4 linked regions of the Homo sapiens genome follow. The protein of the gene in region 1 purifies or fractionates together with the protein of each later gene. This does not show direct contact. Each region holds a gene or a part of one and is shown on either strand. Other genes may lie near its edges.

Region 1 (3,500 bases):
CCAGCCTGGGCAGGTATGGGCTCCCCTGTTTGGCCCTGGGGCACCTAAGGAAACAGATGAAGAGGAGAGGGCCACATACCAGGATGATAGGAAGAAGACGAAGAAGGGAATGGACACAGTTAACTGCAGCCAACGCCACTGGGGGATGGCGTAGGCCAGGCCGGGCAGAATGAACTGGCCAAAGGTGTAGCAGTACCCGAGTGCTGTCGACATGATGGCCCGCATCCGGGTAGGCACCCATTCCACATCTGTGGGAGGAGTCCAAGCACCAGATTAGTGTTCTGCTAGGTCCCAGGCACCTCCGCGTGAAGGGGCACCAGCTTCTGCATCCCCACGGCTACTGACATCCTCCCCACGGATGCTGTTGATATCGCCCTCCGTTGGGTCTTCCTGCTGTTCTGATGCTGACCCTAAGTTCATCATCCCCATTTTACAGATGCCACAGCTGAGGCTCAAGGCGATAGGACTCAAACCTAGGTGTGTCTGTTTCCAAACTCATGCTCTTAACCACTGCTTCTCCAGTGGCAAGTGACTTTCCTTGTTCTGCCTCAGTTTCCTGATCTGTAAAATGGGAATAATAGTGTCACTTACTTGCAAGTGGTATTGAATGAGATTGTGTACCTAGCAGAGTGTCAGGTCCAGGGTAAGTCCTCAGTATTGACAGCTGCTATTACTATGCTTGTTGTCATTTTTAAATTTAAGTGAGGCCTCTGAGGTCCTGAGAGGGGGTGGCACCTTGACCAAGGTCACAGGGAGCCTGTGGTTGAGCCAGACCCAGACCCCATTCTCTTTTGGCTTCTGGATGGTGCTCCCCAAAGCCCAGCTCCATGCCCCACTGCAGCTCACTCAAGATGACGGTGCTCAGGGTAATGCCTGAGATGCCAAAGCCACACAGGAAGCGGAAGACCATGTAGATGGGGAAGGTGGGGCTGAAGGCTGCACCGGAGCCGCTGGCTGCCAGCAGCAGGTAGCTGCAGGTCAGGATGGGCCTGCGGCCAAACCTGTAGCTCGAAGGAGAGGAGGGGCCAGGTTAGCCACAGTGTGCCTGCCAAGAGGAGTGACTCTGCATGCTGTGGGGCAAAGGGCTGAATCCGACCCCCAACCTTTCCCTGTTGGGCACATAAAGCTCCCTCCCCAGACACAGCTTTCTTGGTAATTGCTATTTTTGACAAGTTTGCAATTAGAGGTTTGAGTTAATGAGTGATCTCCTCTACATCCGCCTCAGCTTAGCTGACTGAGCAGGGGTCAAAGGACCGCCCATCTCTAAGCAGTCCATCTCCTCTGCCTCCACTGCTACACAGCCACTACGCTGTGTCCCAAAACCTGGAGGTTTTTTCCCCTGGAAGAAGGGAAGGCTGGAGGCCAGACACGGTGGTTCATGCCTGTAATCCCGGCACTTTGGGAGGCCAAGATGGGAGGGTCACTTGAGGTCAGGAGTTTGAGACCAGCCTGACCAACATGGTGAAACCTCGTCTCTACTAAAAATACAAAAATTAGCCAGGCGTGGTGACACACGCCTGTAATCCCAGCTACTCGGGTGGCTGAGGCAGGAGAATCACTTGAATCCGGGAGGTGGAGGTTGCAGTGAGCTGAGATTGTGCCATCGCACTCCAGCCTGGGCAATAAGAGTGAGACTCCGTCTTAAGAGAAAAAAAAAAAAAAAAAAAAGGAAGGCTGGAAGATTCCAGTTGTAAGGGCTTTGGGGTGGAGAGAAGGCTGTGGTCCAGAAAGGTAGTGAGGTTTGCCCAAGGCCACACAGCAAGAGCCATCCCACCCTCCCCCAGCTCTTTGCCTCTTTGCGGGTGCACGGGTGGAGCAGAGTAGGGAAGGGTTGTCCCCATGGGTCATGCTTCCATGGGCTGTGCCCCCATGTCTCACCTGTCAGACAGGTCTCCAAGCACGAGCCCTCCAATCAGTATACCTGCCATGAAGATAGACTGGGCCATCTCCTTCAGTTTGTTGGAGTTGCACACCAAGTCCCACTGCACAAGAGAAAGGTAGGGCTAGCCTAACTCAGTGTAGACAGCCTGCTCAGCCATGCTCAGCCTGTGGCCTCATACATGTGGGCTTCCTCTCCCAGCGCCCTGACTTTGCCCCTACCTCCCAAGGACCGTTTCCTTTTTCAGCCCGGCTCGGAGCTCCTTGGGTTTGTCTGTGGCTCTTCGGCCCCTGACCTGCATCCCTCAGGCATGTGTGGCCTGTCATATGGCTCTCAAAGTCCACTCAGCTACCACATCCAGGTCTGGCCTCAACTGCTTCCTCCTCTCCAAGTTGCCTGCTTCCCTGTTTGCCTCCTCCCTGCCCCTCACATAGCCCAGGCCAGTCCCTCTGCGTACCCCCTTGACCTTGCCTTCTCTCCTCTACAGGGACGTTCCTCTATCCTTGCCACCTCTCTTCATCCTGCAGATCCAGTCTCTCTCTCTCTCTGCTCCTCCTCATCAGTATTTAGGTGTGTCCAAATCTCTCCATCTTAAAACCTCTTTCCTTTCCTCATTCACTCCATTTCTCTCTTCCCTTCAAAGCCAAATCCTTTGAACGAGGAGCTGTACTTGCTGTCACTCCATCCTCATCTCCTTTTCATGTCTCACTTCTGCCCCCAACCCATCCACTGAATCTGTGCTTATCAAGGTCACTGAAGTTTCATTTTTACGGCGCACAATGGAACGTCCCTAATCCTGGCCTGGCTTGCCCTCTGGCAGATGTGGATGCTGCTGATCTCGCCCTCCGTCAGGCTTCCTGCTGTTCTGCACTCCTCGTCTCCTTCACAGCTCGTTTCTCTCTGCCTAGTCCTTGAAGCTTTCCCAGGGCTCTTCCTGAATCCTCCTCTCTCTCCACTTTCCCCAGGCGATGCCATCTGTTCCTGCGGCTTCAATTCCTATTTTATACTGAAGATTCCAAATCTACAACTCCAGCCCAACCTATCTTCTGACCCACAGAGGAGTAGATTCAGTGGTCCCACTTGAGAACTCTGCCTGGATAGAGTCACAGGCACATCCCAGATTCAATGGGACTTATCACCCCACTTCTCATTAAAGTCCCAATCTCAGGGACTGGTAACCTTCTCTTTTTAATTAATTAATTAATTAAATTAATTTTTTTTTGAGACAGGGTCTCACTCTGTCACCCAGGCTGACTACAGTGGCATGATCATGGCTCAATGAAGCCTCAGTCTCCTGGGCTAAAGCCATCCTCCTAAGTAACTGGGACTACAGGTGTGCATGACCACACCTGGCTAATTTTGGATTTTGTATATAGACAGGAGCTCACTATGTTGCCCAGGCTGGTCTCTAACTCCTGGCCTCAAGTGATCTGCCTGTCTTGGCCTCCCAAAATACTGGAATTACAGATGTGAGTCACCACATCCAGCCTCTTTTTTATTTTTATTTAAAAAAAATTATATCATTTTTAATTGGCAAATCATAATTATATTACATATATGAAAACAATGTGGTGTTTTGATATATGTATGCAATGTGAAGTGATTAAATCAAGCTAATTAA
Region 2 (3,500 bases), 630 kb from region 1:
CTCAAAAAATAAAATAAAATAAAACAAGGCATGACTCTGAAGGTGTTTTATCATACATAGTAGTTTGTCTCATTTTATCTATGAGCCAATCTTACAGAAAGATTTCTCAAAGAATGAAAACTCTGATTCTACCATTTTTACTATAAGCAGCTCATTGAAATTATTTTTTCAAATTATCAACACTTAATTTATCCTGAAATATTTTAATAGAAAATTTTGGAAGCCTCCTTTTATATATTCATAGGAATGAGTTCCATATATTGTTAGGATTGTGTAAAATTAAAAATGCCTGCATGGAAAGCGGCAGAGCAACAGACACGACGCAAACAGGCACAGTCTGAGCATCTGAACCACAAGTAAAAGGTGAGAGAAGTAAAAGATATTATTTTTAACCTGGTTATAAATCTCCCCAGGATGATTTATAGCCAGTAATGATAATGCATCTTTTATTGAAAAAGCTGATATAAAATCATCAATTTACTGTTGAGAGAAAAGAGGCCAAAGAAAACTCTTAAGAACCCTCACTGAGAAAACTTTATAAAACACTTTCCAGAAGCAGAACTAAGAAAAAAAAAAAATGGTGAAGAGGACTTCCTCTGGATAATTAAACCAAGGTCTCTTTATAAGACCAAAACAGAAATGGTGAATTTAAATAGTAACTGAATCTTAAGATTTCATTAAATCATACATTATCACTTTTTTTAAAGTGACCTAATACTTTAGTATGAGTTTTCGACACATCACCCCTTCTTACCATTAAATTTTTTAAGTTATTCTGAAATCTATAAATTTACTTATAGAATGTATTAAAAGCTAAGTATGTCAATATTTACAGAGCCTGCTAATAGGTATGAACTTTCAGAGAGATAAGAGGTCACCTGAAAATGCACCAACATTTCAGAAGCAAGCTTTCAAGTTAACAGTCAAAGCTTGGTTGGCATCACTGATAAATGCAAGTAAACAAGCTGGAATTTTTCTAAAGTGTAACAGCAGTGAATAAAATAGCAAGAACTATTTGCAAGATGGCATATAAATATGAAACAATATGCTGCGAATTTAGGACTTACAAAAATACTTCAGTGGTAAAGTGTCAAAAGAAAATTCTTTGATAAAGAGATTACATGCGAAAAGGGACTTTTTTTCTACCTTCCATTCATACTTCATGTATGTAAAGTTTACACTCAGATCTTACCTTCATGTATATAAAATTTACACTCTTACCTCCCTCCCATAACAAAAGTTAAATTATCTTAGAAATTAAGGCTTATATACCTGAATGTTTATATAAATACTTGCAGGCAAGTTTTAAGTTTTAAAATCCACAATAATTCCAAAAGGAAAAGCAACTAACAGATAAAACTTTTATCTCCTAATCAAGGTAAATAGAAAAAAAGAACTCTTAGATACTTCTAGATATTTTTTATATTTGGGTAGGACTTTGATCCTTGCTAAGGCAAAGCTATCTTAAAGCTACCAGACTAGCCAAAGTAAAATTAAATAGATAATTCACTAAATAAAATGGGTTAATTTTAGCTTCATTATTAAGAACATTAGACACGGCAGAGAATGCAAATTAACATTCTGAATAAAGACCTTAAATCAGGTTATTAATTGCTGCTAAGCCACATGAAATTAGACATCAATTAAACGCAGTAATATTTGTATCTTCCCTCTAATCCTTAATAAAGTTCTGTTCTTATGCAGAACTCTCAAAAACAAAACCCCTCAAATGACAATTACAAGAGTTGTGTAAAACATACATACATATGTAAACCTACAGTGAACCTGACCAAGGCACAAGTTCAAGTGACTTATCAGAGGTCACATGGTTCATTTAAACTTAGCTTTTTTCTTGAAGTATCTAGCGCATTCCTTTTATTATGAGCCACTCTGGCTTTTCAAGGCACGTTTGCCTCTTTTTCTAGAAAGAAGCTATAGGGACCAAAAAAAAAAAAAAAATAGAGCAAGTTGCAACAAAACTGTCAGCCTACTGGGTAAAAACCTCACATTTCAGAGTATGGTATATTTAAATATGACATGATTTTTCCACACTATGTGGCAACAGGATTCCCTATTGTAAATTTTTTTTGAGTGTAATGACATCATTTTCAGTTAGTCTTTAGTTCTGAAGTTTCTCCAAGTTCTGTAAACTTTTAAAAAAGGAATCCTTCTTGGCCGGGCACGGTGGCTCACGCCTGTAATCCCAGCACTTTGGGAGGCCAAGGCGGGCAGGCGGATCACAAGGTCAAGAGACCAAGACCATCCTGGCCAACATGGTGAAACCCCATCTCTACTAAAAATACAAAAAAATTAGCTGGGTATGGTGGCGTACACCTGTAGTCCCAGCTACTTGGGAGGCTGAGGCAGGAGAACTGCTTGAACCCGGCAGGCAGAGGTTGCAGTGAGCCAAGATCACACCACTGCACTCAAGCCTGGTGACAGAGCGAGACTCCAACTCAAAAAAAAAAAAAAAAAAAAAAAGAATCCTTCTCAAAAGAGTAAAGTATAAAAGAAATGTCAAGTTTCACCCGAAAACGGCACCTTTCATGAGGTTATCCTCCATCCCCTCCCCATCGTGTGTGCAAAACCATGGAATCAATCTTAAAAGGCACTAAGTGGCACATAAAGAACTTAAAAGCTGCATTTCCATTTTTCCTCTAGCTTCCTCCTCCATAAAGTGCACAAAGCAGAGTAATATGAAAATAGACACAGGCTTGCATCTATAACAGCAAGGAAAAGAAATGCTTCCAAGAGAAATGGAAGTGTGTTTAATAATTTGAAACCACAGGAGAGGTCTGCTCATTTATTACAGGGCCATGTTTTAGCTCTTCCTGGATCGTCTCAGATCTGCCATTCCTCTGGATATGAACCTGTGGCCGTGGCAGAAACCCAGAAATCAGTAGGGGCTTGTTGTGTTCTTGTTTGATCTTCACGTTAAGATGCTATTGAGCTTTTTTATCCATGGATGGTCTTCCAACAACTGCATCCCTCACAGTGGCCTGAGTGGAATTACCGATATGAGAAGAAGCCTGCAAAAGTCCATTTATTCAACATATAAGTTAATAAAATACAACACAGCAACAAGAAAGTAAGTCCTTAAACTTTCAAAAACCTGTCTCCATCATCGGCATGTTACAGAAAGCAGTTGAATGAAAATGCAGGGATACAGAGAGGCTGTGGCAGCAGCTAACTCCCAAGAGAGCCAGGGGAACATCTGCTCTGTGGCTAGGGTAGGATAGGCAGCTCCTGTGGCTTCACAAGCTGCTAACCCAACTCACCTGTTCATGTTACTCAGAAAAACAAATGTATCATCTCAAAGATCTACAAAACTTGTGACCATGTCAATGTCCAAGAGCTACTGGGTTAGTCAGGTGTGGTGGCACTCGCCTGTAACACCGGCTGCTTGGGAGGCTGAGGTGGGAGGATCACTTGAGCCCAGGAGTTTTAAGTTACAATGAGCTAAGATACCAGCCTGGGTGACAAAGCAAGACCTCGTCTCC
Region 3 (3,500 bases), on another chromosome or scaffold:
GAATATTAAATGAATGTTTTTGCAATGAGGCCAGACTCATTATAAACATAAATAATTTGTTTTATCAGTTTCTATATATTTTTTTTTTTTTTTTTTTTGAGACGGAGTCCCGCTCTATCACCCAGGCTGGAGTGCAGTGGCACAATTTCGGCTCACTGCAAGCTCCGCCCCCCGGGTTCATGCTGTTCTCCTGCCTCAGCCTCCCGAGTAGCTGGGACTACAGGCGCCCGCCACCACACCCAGCTGATTTTTTGTATTTTTAGTAGAGACGGGGTTTCACTGTGTTAGCCAGGATGGTCTTGATCTCCTGACCTCGTGATCTGCCCGCCTTGGCTTCCCAAAGTGCTGGGATTACAGGCGTGAGCCACCATGCCTGGCCCAGTTTCTTTTAATAGATGAAAACTGATGAAACAGTGACTAGTAGGTCAAAACAGAGTTTGCAAGAATATACAATATGGTACGGACAATTACCTGGCCACTTCCTTAGTTTATGATGCTTTAGCATAGGTAAACAGCTTTAATAGATCCCTCAAAGTCAAAGCCTGACACCCAACAAACATTAAAAATCCCTTTGCTTGTTCAGTAAGAGAAGTAAAAATTAAATTAAAATAAAATATCTCAAGAGGACCTAGAGAGGTCACCAGTGGGTAATCTCAATCACCACACAATCTCCAAATGAAAGACTGCTAGAGGGCACTGCTGTCTGAGACTTGGAGGCTTGAGTGGCAGTGTTACAGAAATGCTGGCAGTACACAAACTGAAGAACAAACAGATCTTAGGGACTCTGGACCGTATTACTAAATTATAGATCAGATCACTTTGTAAAAAAAAAAAAAAAAAAAAAGGAATCCAATAGCCTACAGATCATTTAATTCCAAGAGGAAGACAACCAGTTCTTCTTGGAGACATGTAAATTTTGTTTAGCAAAAATTCTACTGGAAACACCATTTCCCTATTATCTTGCTATCTTATAACATAGTCCAATAAGTAAACCTTTACCTTGAGATGAATTTCCTTTAATAAAATAAAAGAAGTATTAAGGAACAGGAGAAAAATTACAGAAAAGGAGAAATGAAAGTGTCTGTTATCACATGGAAAAAAATTAAAATATTTGATGCCTAATAGGTACAGCTCACTAGGTCACTTTTTTAATTATGAAGGCCCTAGCTCATTAATGCTAGGGCTCAAAAACCTCCTTTTTTCCTTCTATTTCAGATGCAGTTAAAATAAATAATTTTAAAATATATTATGCTTCATATGTACAAGTGCTTTTGGTACCACACAAATAGTGTTAGATATAACCAATCAACTGTGTTACCACCTTATTACTGTAGCTAACTCCTCATTCACCTGGCAGCATCAGAGGAGGTGGTAATCCATAAAAATGTATTTTCCAGTGAACTGGTAAATAAGAAAAGTATAAACACTTTACATTTTTTACCATTTCAGGTACAGATGTTTATAACAGGTATCTGTTTCTTCTGCTTCCTCAGTCACATACTTTTTTTTTTTTTTTTTTTTTTTTTTTGAGACAGAGTCTCGCTCTGTCGCCCAGGCTGGAGTGCAGTGGTGTGATCTTGGCTCACTGCAACCTCCACCTCCTGGGTTCAAGCGATTCTTCTGCCTCAGCCTCCCAAGTAGCTGGGATTACAGGTGCACACCACCACACCCAGATAATTTTTGTATCTTTAGTAGAGACGGGGTTTTGTCATGTTGCCCAGGCTGGTCTCAAACTTCTAACCTCAGGTGACCTGCCCACCTCGGCCTCCCAAAGTGCTGGGATTACAGGCGTGAGCCACTGCGCCCGGCCCAGTCACATACTTCTTGATGGCCACTGTGCACACCTTTAGCAGTTCCTTCTGGCATTTTGTTATGAAGTAGGAAAACAGATAACAGCTTATTAATACATTTTTCCCTCCCTTAAGCTTAAATGGACTCTGAAAAGGAACCTGAGAGCTGCCCCTATGATAGTAGTACATGAGCTTTAATGTTTAGCTTTTGTAATATCTACTTTGACTGATTAGAAGGAGGTGTTTTGGGATCACTTCAAGATTGGTTTATTTGTACTATATTTCAGGTAGCCTGACTAGAAAAGTCACTATTCTTATGCCCTTTTCTAGTAAAATGCCAAATCTTAGTACAATATGGAAAGTATATTATTTTTCTGTTTTGGTAAAGTTATTTTAAAAATTCTGTATCTGTATCTTTCTGGCAAAGTTATTTTAAAAATTCCCTACCTGTGTCTTTCTTCAGCTACCTTTTAATTGGTGACATCTCCATCAAAGAAGTAGAAGTCCATAAAAGAAAATAAAGCTTTTGGGAACACTGACCCCATTTTCTAAAGTTTGTGTTCTCTGATTGGCCATTCCCAGCTTTCTACTTGCATAAACTCTGTATTCTGATCCTTTTGATGGCTTCAGGTTGACAATGTCAAGAGAGGCAATTTAGCAGAGTAGTCACTAGTTTACCAGTGATTTTCCTCAGCAGGAGTTAGCCTAGGATTTTTAAACTACATTTTCCCTCTCCCCTATCCCTATCTCCCTAGAAGAATCACTGTACATGACAGTTAGAAATAAGATCAAATTTATCCTTTAGTAATTTGACTGCCTGCTAGGCAAAAACTCAACAACCTTCTGACAAAATTCAGAGCTCATAATCTCTACAACATGATAATTAACAATGCTGCAACAAAGAAATAACTGGCCAGGTGTGTAAAAACAGGAAAATGTAACCCAGAGTCAAGAGAAAAATCCATCAATACAAATAGACTTATCTAACCTGATGTTGGAATTAGCAGATAATTACTTTTTAAAAACTGTGATAAGCATAATAAAGAATCGATAGGGAGGAAAAAAATAAAGCTTTCTTACTTCACATGACGGTTTTCTAGTATGTCTTCTAACAAAATTAAACTAAATGTCCTCTGAACTAGAGAAAGAAGGGATTCTACATCTGGATCTGGACAGAGTTCTTACCCTTTCAGTGGACAAAGGGAACTCAGTCCCATAGGATATTATGGCTTTTCAGGTTCCCTCTGGGGATCCCTGGAAAATTAGTGAAGTCATTAGAATTCTAAATTCTGCTGTAAGTTCCTCAAACCCTTAATTTAGAGCTCTGAATTCTCTGGGTGTGTCAGGAATGATTTCAAATAAACCAGGGTATCACAGTTAAATAGAAAAGCAAATAAACTCTATTATGCCCTCCAATGGTGTGCATTCATTTACCTCTGAGAAAGTTTCTGACAACTCTTAACGTACACTCCTGAAGCACCAGCAGGCTCAACACTTGAATCTCCCTTAGTACTTCCTACAACATTATTATTACTAAGGACTGCCTACTTCAAATCACAACCCCACATACATAGTTTTAAATTTAGAATATCAAAAAACATTTCAGAAATTTTAGAAAATCCAAACAATAACAACAAAATTTTCAGTAAAGCACCAAACAACACAGGAAAACTGAGACGTTCAGGCTTTCTGTCAACTGGGCTGCTATTT
Region 4 (3,500 bases), on another chromosome or scaffold:
AGAACACCCCAAGTGGCAAAATATCTACACTGGTGAAAAAACTATAAACTATATCTAGAGCAGAGAAGAACAAGAAGGAGAAAAAAATAAAACTTTCATGTGGAAAGAAGAAAAGAACACGGTGCTGTTAATAAGAAAGGATAAGCCCAGTGCTTACAATCTTAAGAAACATTAAGAGACAGAGAGGCAGACACACAAGCAAGAAGTGTTTTTGCTTTGTTTTTTTTTGTGTTTTTTCTGATGGAGTCTCGCTCCGTTGCCCAGGCTGGAGTGCAGTGGCACGATCTCAGCTCACTGCAAGCTCCGCCTCCCGGGTTCATGCCATTCTCCTGCCTCAGCCTCCTGAGTAGCTGGGACTACAGGCGCCCGCCACCATGCCCGGCTAATTTTTTGTATTTTTAGTAGAGACGGGGTTTCGCCGTATAAGCCAGGATGGTCTCGATCTCATGACCTCATGATCTGCCCGCCTCGGCCTCCCAAAGAGCTGGGATTACAGGAGTGACCCACCGCGCCCGGCCGCTTTGTTTTTTTAAAGCAAATCTTTTGGATTTCCTAGCTTAAAGGGTACTAACTGTGTGGCAAAAGTAAACCCAATACTCTTATCTGATCTTTCCCCAATCAGGCCACTGTTGGCTTCAAAACACTATGTTACATACAACTTTAGTGAAAGTATATTTAAACAGTTTTCTGAAAAACAAACTCTATAAAAAAAACTAAAAGGGTACAGTTAATGTGTGACCCAAATGACAATATTAGCTACCGAAAGGAAAATACTGAACTATGATAAAATGATTGAAGTAGACTTGACCTTTTCAATCAAGTTGGATTCCTTATTTACAAGTTGTGTGAGTTTCTGCAGATTTGCATCTACCGTTTCTTGTCCAGCTGGAGAGATGCCTAAGAAGCCAGGACAGAAATCAGAGAAAGACAGGAAATTTTTAAAGCCTTTAAAGCTATTTAGATTGAAAGAATTTTGAGTCTACCCACCCTGTCCAGTGCCCCACCCTCCCCAAAAAAGGCAAAGAGGAAAACCATTCTGGGTTTAAAGGCGAAGAGAGGGATTCGAATGCTCTAAAACTAAACCCTGAGCAAAACGGACAAAAATTTATCCACTAAGTAGACACTGCTAACCAAGTGTTCTGCAATTGGCCACAATAATTAGTTTTTTTTTTTTTTTGAAAAAAAAAGCACAGTAGTCCTCATTTCCTTCTCAAGTTTAAGCTATTCCTTTCTCACACCCATTTCAAATAGGTCTTTGGTCACAACTATCTGGATAGTTTTCTAAGGCAGTAACTCCCAAAAAGTTGCCCACCAGACATCCAAAGTATTCAGAAGAACTTAAAAATACAAATTCCTAGGATTGATGCCTAAAAGATTCTAATTTAGTAAGTCTGGAATAGGACCCAAGATTTTTTATCTGTCAAATAATCAGGTTTGCTAACCACTGCTCCCAAGTTAACACGGTTGAACATTACTTAATTTCATGACTCCCAAACTACTAACCCCTTCCTGTATACAGAATACATAACCCACCAAAAAATAATAAACTGTCCACCTAAGCCAGCTATCTTTATAACCTGTTTCTTAAAAGGACAATTTCAGCCAACCATCCCAATAGAAATTTAGTATCTGAATCACTTAAGCACAAGGCTCCACTCTCTCAATGAAGCACATCCTAAGTAACAGGTGCCCTCTATTTACTATACTTCCATTCTGATGCAATCAGTTTTCAAGTAGTGGAATCATGGCAGTGTACCTCACCAAAATCAATCTGCTGCTGATTTCTGTTCATGCAGGAAAATGCTAGAAGCAGCAGGTAAAAATCATTTAAAGTAATTGTCCATTTGCATTAGGATAAATACTGTTTTTCAGCAAAGACTTAATACCTGTGGTTTTAACCTTTTAGAAGAAAATGACCCACTTCAAAGGGGTAATATTTAAAGAACAAGAAGAAGAAACGTAAAAATCCAGCGGAATAGATAAAAGGCAAATATCTATTTATCTATTTAAATAAGAACTAACATGAGAATAAAAATGAAGTCGGAAAAACACAAATCCTTGAAGTGCTATAAACCACTATTTAAAGACAATACACAAACTTCTAAAATTAAAATAAGTAGTGGATTTTGCTTATACATACATAGGAGAATATGCAAACAAACATTAGCTGAAAAAGAGCCAGCTTACCTCCAAGACTAAGCCTAAAATAACTGCTCAGGATGTCATCACAAAAGCGACAGAGGTTGGAGAGCTGTTTCAGATGTTCTTGTAGCTGAACTTTAGGAAACCGTACTTTGTAAAGAGGTGCAAGAAAACCAAAAACATAGGCATCCAAGGTAGAAGGCCTAGAAATAAATTAAGGATTTTTAAAGCACATAAGACAATATTAACTGAAGGCCGGGTGTGGTGGCTCATGCCTGTAATCCCAGTACTTTGGGAGATCAAGCGGGGGCAGATCACTTGAGGTCAGGAGTTCCAGATAAGCCTGGCCAACATGGTGAAACCCTGTCTCTACTAAAAATACAAAAGAAGTCGGGCGTGGTGGTGGGCACCTGTAAACCCAGCTACTTGGGAGGTTGAGGCAGGAGAATTGCTTGAACCCAGGAGGCGGAGGTTGCAATGAGCCAAGATCATGCCACTGCACTCTAGCCTGGGCAACAAGAGCAAGACTCCATCTCAAAAAAAAAAAAAAAAAAAAATTAAATTAAGGATTTTTTTAAGCACATAAGAAAATACTAACTTGGGATGGTGTTTAATTTTTTTTTCAAAATTCTCAATTCTGAATTACACAGTATAGTCTCTTAAAAGGTTTACTATCCATTTCAGTTTACAAAAATTATGCAACCAAGGTTTTACTCATTGAGTAGCTTAGACTCTAGGAGAAAATGAAATTGTCTTTATAGATTCATTTTTACTCACAAATGTTAGACTGGAGGCAGAGTGGGAACAGTCTGAGATGTTTTAAATTCACATATGCAGCCTATTAAGTCAATGTTAGATTATCACTGGTAGAAAAAGTTTCCTATAATAAAAGCCCATTAAATTTTTTTCTTGTTTGTTTTGGTTTTTTGACATGGAGTTTCACTCTTGTCACCCAGGCTGGAGTGCAGTGGCGTGATCTCAGCTCACTGCAACCTCCACCTCCCAGGTTCAAGCGATTCTCCTGCCTCAGCCTCCCAAGTAGCTGGGATTACAGGTGCCCACCACCACACGCAGCTAATTTTTTGTATTTTTAGTAGAGATGGGGTTTCGCCATGTTGGGCAGGTTGGTCTTGAACTTCTGGCCTCGGGTGATCTGCCCAACTCGGCCTCCCAAAGTGCTGTGATTACAGGTATGAGCCACCACACCGGCCTAAATCTTGTTTTTTTTAAGTAAAAAACTCATCTTTTGGGGAGATAAGAGGACTTGCTTTAAATAGCTGCTCACTGAATATATGTGCACAAAATACCAAAATGATTTTTAAGGGAATACTCACGTATCTCCAAAGAAAAACTGAGAT

What was found. Proteins that work in one complex are often made in the same cells at the same time.
Region 2: the proteins of SLC22A8 (region 1) and ATL3 purify together in Homo sapiens (affinity purification with mass spectrometry; one large-scale study listed by BioGRID and IntAct). This does not show direct contact.
Region 3: the proteins of SLC22A8 (region 1) and NDFIP1 purify together in Homo sapiens (affinity purification with mass spectrometry; one large-scale study listed by BioGRID and IntAct). This does not show direct contact.
Region 4: the proteins of SLC22A8 (region 1) and MTX3 purify together in Homo sapiens (affinity purification with mass spectrometry; one large-scale study listed by BioGRID and IntAct). This does not show direct contact.

The regions. Positions count from the first base shown.
Region 1 is NC_000011.10:62,998,842-63,002,341, forward strand, and holds part of SLC22A8 (organic anion transporter 3), read right to left. Parts: intron 2,872-3,500; exon of another isoform or gene 2,206-2,871; coding exon of another isoform or gene 2,101-2,205; intron 1,983-2,100; coding exon 1,879-1,982; intron 1,002-1,878; coding exon 847-1,001; intron 249-846; coding exon 80-248; intron 1-79. UniProt on the Homo sapiens protein: Functions as an organic anion/dicarboxylate exchanger that couples organic anion uptake indirectly to the sodium gradient.
Region 2 is NC_000011.10:63,626,377-63,629,876, forward strand, and holds part of ATL3 (atlastin-3), read right to left. Parts: intron 3,030-3,500; coding exon 2,943-3,029; 3' UTR 1-2,942. UniProt on the Homo sapiens protein: Atlastin-3 (ATL3) is a membrane-anchored GTPase that mediates the GTP-dependent fusion of endoplasmic reticulum (ER) membranes, maintaining the continuous ER network. It facilitates the formation of three-way junctions where ER tubules intersect.
Region 3 is NC_000005.10:142,146,779-142,150,278, reverse strand, and holds part of NDFIP1 (NEDD4 family-interacting protein 1), read right to left. Parts: intron 1-3,500. UniProt on the Homo sapiens protein: Activates HECT domain-containing E3 ubiquitin-protein ligases, including NEDD4 and ITCH, and consequently modulates the stability of their targets. As a result, controls many cellular processes.
Region 4 is NC_000005.10:79,984,763-79,988,262, forward strand, and holds part of MTX3 (metaxin-3), read right to left. Parts: coding exon 3,477-3,500; intron 2,346-3,476; coding exon 2,188-2,345; intron 898-2,187; coding exon 809-897; intron 1-808.